2 separate regions of the Homo sapiens genome follow, and region 2 is linked to region 1. The links come from fine-mapping of genetic effects on gene expression. A gene starts in region 1. The other region holds a variant in brackets. All regions are shown on one strand. Distances are between the middles of the regions.

Evidence for each region. PIP is the estimated chance that this variant, and not a neighbour inherited with it, causes the effect.
Region 2: its variant is the best candidate, but not a certain one, in a credible set for the expression of CCPG1 in fibroblasts (GTEx, PIP 0.61).

The regions. Positions count from the first base shown.
Region 1 is chr15:55,406,920-55,409,644 of GRCh38, reverse strand. CCPG1 (cell cycle progression 1) reads left to right here and starts at 1,286. Exons shown (of 9, transcript NM_001204450.2): 1 at 1,286-1,424. It overlaps PIERCE2 (piercer of microtubule wall 2), which reads right to left and starts at 1,150. Exons shown (of 2, transcript NM_001198784.2): 1 at 859-1,150. The coding sequence starts at 876. All of the region lies in intron 8 of DNAAF4-CCPG1 (DNAAF4-CCPG1 readthrough (NMD candidate)), which reads left to right. RefSeq lists enhancers at 907-1,106, 1,157-1,426, 1,787-2,066.
Region 2 is chr15:55,528,757-55,531,783 of GRCh38, reverse strand. It overlaps LOC124903496, which reads left to right and starts at 856. Exons shown (of 2, transcript XM_047433411.1): 1 at 856-949. The variant A/T (reference allele first, on the strand shown) is at 1,493.

The sequences.
Region 1 (2,725 bases):
CACTGTTGATGTTGAATATAGTTAATAGAAAAGCAAAAATAAAAAATAAAAAAGGTCTAATTTTGAGGCACTCTTTTGTCTCTGCTCAGGTCCACCGTCTTCCTTGCTAATGTTTACGTTTATTATTAATTTTTCCATTTATTTATTTACTTTTACCACAATTAGGGGACAGAGAATGAAACCTAAACTTTTTATTGCTTCTGTAAAGAGTGAATATAAATGTAAGATTTTTTTTTTTTGAGACGGAGTTTTGCTCTTGTTGCCCAGGCTGCAGTTCAGTGGCGCAATCTCGGCTCACTGCAACCTCTGCCTCCCAGGTTCAAGCAATTCTGCTGTCTCAGCCTCCCAAGTAGCTGGGATTACAGGCCCGCGCCACCTCTCCTGGCTAATTTTTTGTATTTAGTAGAGACGGAGTTTCACCATGTAGGTCAGGCTGGTCTCGAACTCCTGACCTCAGGTGATCCACCCGCTTCGGCCTCCCAAATTGCTGGGATTACAGGCGTTGAGCCCCGGCGCCCGGCCACCAAATCCTTTTTCAAAACAACTCCCTTCTTTGACACAGTGCAATTTAAATAAGTATACAATTAACAAAGTACGTTTTTCTTGTTCAAAACCATCACTGAACAGTTTGCAACAGTAGGGTATGAATGCATACAATCTCGATGGTCTTTACACCTTCAGAGGCTATTCGGACTTAAGGAAACGTGCATTTACAAGTGTAAATGTAAAAGCTCAGTAGTTGCCTTGTAAAGTGCTTTTCGGGGTTGTGGGGTTGGGGGTGGTAGGAGTAGGTGGTGCCTCAAATTATACTAGCGAATACCAACATTCCCAAACATCTAGCCCTCTGCCTAAACTCACCCGGTTGCGGTCTGTCATTTTCGCTCTTCTTTGTTAATTTTTTCGGCAAAGTCAGTTTTCATGCAGCAGATGGCAAGAAAGCCGGTGAACGCCTAGGGACGTGGCCTTTTAACCGCACCCAATTAAAGCAGCAAACAGAAGATGAATAGCTGGGTGGATCAGTATGTGTAAACCTATCCGTTTAATCCGGGGAGCTGTTTTCCCGGGTGAAACCACGAATTCTTTCTGGAGGTTGCAACTCGTAACCATAGCAACTGGAAGTGGTCGCCGGCTCCCGGATGTTGTGGGGATCTGCGGCCGCCTGGCCCAGCTTCCCGCAGCCGCCCGGCGGCGGCCTGCGCTCCACTTCGGGAGTGGTAGTTCTTCTCTTCACCGCTGCCGGGCAGGAGGCGCAGGCGGGACTACGCGTCACGGCATGCACTGCGGCGCCCAGCCGGTCACCGCCTGCCGGCTGCAGACGCCTGCGAGCAGGTTGTTTTTATAAGAGGCGTCATTGGCGCCCGAGCTGTGACCGCCGCCACTGGGGCAGCCAGCACAATCGGGCGGAGGTGGCGCTGCCCCTTCAGGTACTGTACTAGGCGGGCTTAGACCCCGGGAGGGGGTTTGTGCCGACTGTCTGAGTCCCTGGCCGACACGCTCGGCTCAGTAGAGGAGCAGTGGCGGGGTCCGCCTCCTAGGCTGGGGCTGCTCGGGCGGGGACTTGACGCCTGGTGTCAGCGGCCGCACGGGCGACCTCCTCGGGCCGTGCGCGAGTGCACAGCTCCGGAGGCCCGAGCCGACCCTGGGGCGTCCGGTCCGGTGGTCTTGCAGCCTCCAAACCCCGAGTGCTATACCGAACTGCGCGCCAAGGGTGGGAGAGCTGACGGCCTGGGCCACCCTTCTTCCTTCACTGGGCAGGCTTTGAGGTGCTTGTCGGTCTGGACTGATGAAAATCCATATGGTAAGATGTTATGTGCGTCACCCTGCCGGGTTTAATGCCAGCCTGTCTTTTGATGACATTTGAGCCCCCGTGATGTCAGGAATAGAAAGATTAAATATTAAATAATGCCCGGAGACTTCCGCTAGCACGCCAGCCTGATGATGATCAAATACCTCTCCATATCCTTCTCCAGTTCCAGTGGCCTCCTTTAGCTTTGGTCTCCCTAATCGATTTGTCCTCATTAGCAGCTGTCCCATGCAGTGCCTTGTACGCGTTGTTTATGTTTAGCACTATTGGGAGCGCCAAGTAAGGTATTTTATTGAGTGGTGAAGTTTGCACTGTTCTGCTCTACTTTTATTGAAAAACACAGTTGGGCATTCTTGTAGTTAGAATAGCTAACTATATAGTACTATGAATTTTAGATTTGTCTCCTCCAATCTACAGGATAGTGCTTGAAATATCGCTATTACTGCATCGTATCTTTTAAGATTAGAATCATATTGGGTCCCACACGTCTCAGGGGATATTTATCACACACATCCAGTGTGAATGGTTTACTTTTATTTTCTGAGTTCAGGTCATATAGCAGAAGATGGAGATGGTGAGGGTATTATTTTAATTCATATTTTTTTTTTTTTTGAGAGAGGGTTTCGCTCTTGTTGCCCAGGCTGGAGTGCAGTGGCGCGATCTCGGCTCACTGCAACCTCTGCCTTCCAGTTTCAAACGATTCTCCTGCCTCAGCCTCCCGAGTATCTGGGATTACAGGCGCCCGCCACCACGCCCAGCTAAATTTTGTATTTTTAGTAGAGACGGCGGGGCGGGGGGGGGGGTCTCAACGTGTCGGCCAGGCTGGTCTTGGACTCCTGACCTCGTGATCCGCCCACTTCGGCCTCCCAGAGTGCTGGGATTACAGGCGTGACCCACCGCGCGGGCGTTAATTCATAATTT
Region 2 (3,027 bases), 120 kb before region 1:
TTAGTAGTTTCTTATAACATTAGTAAACTTAAACCTATCATATGGCCCAGCAATTATATTTTTAAGTATTTACTCCTGAATGTTTATAGCAGTTTTATTCATAATTACCAAAAACTGGAAACAACCAAAATGTCTACCAACTATAGAATGGACAAACGACTCTTTGTACATGTATATCATATAATACTTAGTAAAAAAAAAGAATGCATGAAACACAACAGCACAGACGGATCTCCAAAGCATTGAGCTAAATAAGAAGAAAACGAAAGGGTTCATACTACATGATTTCCTTATATAACATTCTGAAAAAGACAAAACAATAAGAAAAGAATTCAGTTCAGTGGTTGCCAGGGATCGGGGCTGGGAGGATGTAACTGAGTAGCTTAGGTTCAAAATGCATTTTGAGACTTTTTTTTCTTCCTTTTCTTCCTTTTAGCCTTGAAACATACCTTAATACTCTTTGTTTCCCTGCCTTCCCACCAGACACTCTTGTGCACTGGTAGTTTATCTAATTATGTGCCCAGAAGTTGCAGGGGCTAATCTTGAGATAAACCAGGCATGGAAACCCAGGTGTGAAATTCTAGAGATTACCTCAGAGCAGTTAGTCAACAGCCTCACCATTGTTGAGATGATGCCAGCCTGCACTCCAAGTGGACCATGACTCAGGATAACCAGTGGAACAAGACACACAGACCTCGTACCCAGCACCATTCCTGCATGCCTTCCATTCCAAGTTCCCCTCTTTAAACCCCTGTCCACGGCCTAAAGTTTGAAATAGTCTGTTAAGAGCACGAGTCTGGACATTCCCCATCTGCTAGCGTTTGAATAAAAGCTGTTTCCCTTTGGTCACACCTCATTTCTCATACTTTGACTTCTAACAGTGAGCAGTTGAACTTGAGTCAGTTACAGGAGGAGGAAATTGACTGCAAAGAAATACGAGAAAACTTTGGTGAGATGGAAATATTTTATATCTTGGTTGTGGTTGAGGTTACATAGCTGTTTATATTGATCAAAACTCTAGAACAATATATCTCAAACGAGTGGATTTTACTGCATGTAAATTATACCTCAGTAAACCTAACTTTAAAATTCTAAGATACAGCTCTCGCAATATTTGGAAGGCCAATTTGCAGTCTTAAATGAACCTATAAAAACCAAGGAGCTTTTAAAAAAATGAATTATGATTTAACTCAAGAGTTTGAAGAATAACAAGTAGAAGAATGGAAACAAATGTAAGAGCAAAAGTTAATGAAATGAAAAATGGGAGAAGATCAACAAAAATAAAGGTTATTTTTACTAGTCTTTCAAAAAACTAATAAACATGTAATAAGAGAGATGGGACAGAAAGAGATTATACAAACAAGCAATATTAGGAATAAAAACATGATTATCTTAGATAAAGTAGAAAATGCTATAAGTAGCTTTATGTCAATGGAGGCTAAGACTAGTTGCAGGAAGAATAAGAAATAGGATATTGGTGTGATTGCAGATT[A/T]TCTGTCTCCCACAAAACACTAATCAATTACAAAGAAGAAAATTATGACTTTACAGTGAAGAAACTTGGCAGACACCAATATGACAGGTGATGACCAATGTTACCAGTGGTGGGAACAGTCAACCGCATATGTCCGTACTATGGCTGATACTCTTACAAGGGCATAGTTTCATTTCCATGATATTCCTGCCATGAATGCATGACCTGAGTGTGATCATAAGGAAACATCCAGCTCAAGGATCACTCTACAAAAGGTAAGGCCTGTACTCTTTCAAAGACTAAGGAGCTTTTTGAGATTGGAGAAAACTGAAGAGACTTGATAACTGTATTAGTCCATTTTCACGCTGCTGATAAAGACATACCCGAGACTGGGAAGAAAAAGAGTTTTAATTGGACTTACAGTTCCACAGGTTTAACTCTGTGCACAAACTAGTCAGTCCACTGAAAAGGATAACAGACAGGTGAGTTTGTGTCCTTTGATTGCTTAGGATCTGTTGCTAATTTGCTGAACTGAAGCTGCAAGAGCCTTGTGTTTTTGAGCATCTAGTGGGAAAAGTCTTTACCTCTGGTTGTGTGAGTTTGAGATATATTCCTACCTCAGCGGGGGTGGAGGGGGAGGGTATAAGTAAAATAAATTAGAAGACTCTTTAAAGAGTACCGTTATGATTGTTTTGGAGCAATGTCACCACTCTCTCCTCAGGGATTTTAGGCAATGTCTGGAGACATTTTGGGCTGTTACAATTTGGGGGTGCTTTTGGCATCTAATGGGTAGAGATTTGGTGTGCTGCCACACAGCTCACAATGCTCAGGACCGCCCTGCATGACAAAACAATTATCTGGCTTAAAATGACAATCGTTTTAGAGAAACTGAAAAGCACTTATATAAATCTAATATTCTCAACATTTCCTCAACATAAATTGAATGTCTAATGCTTTAAATGTGATAGCCTGCTTAAAAAAAAAAAGTCCTTCTCACAGAAGCTGCTAGCTCAAAAGCACTTTAAAAAAAAGCACTTAGAAAAAAAAAAAAAAACAAGAAATCAAGTTCATGCAATTAAACTAGACTGATAATTTGGGTTTAAAAAATAACTGTATCAGGCCGTGTGTAGTGGCTCATGCCTGTACTCTCAGCACTTTGGGGACTGAGTTGGGTGGGTCTCTTGAGGCCAGGAGTTCAAGACCAGCCTGGCCAGCATGGTGACACCCCGTCTCTACTAAAAAAAAAAAACAAAAAAACAAAAAAACATTAGCTGGGTGTGGTGGCACATGCCTTTAATTCCAGCTACTACTGGGGAGGCTGAAGCACGAGAAATGCTTGAACCTGGGAGACAGAGTTTGCAGTGAGCCAAGATTGCACCACTGCAGTCCAGCCTGAGAGACAGAGTGAGACTGTTTCCAGGAAAAAAAAAAAAAAAAAAAAAAACACCAAAAAAGTCGTATATTTTTCTGATTATATCAGTGTGAAGAAAAAATACAAGTATACAAGTTTTATTCTTTTTAAAAATATGGATTGTTTACATAAAGGTAATTTTGTT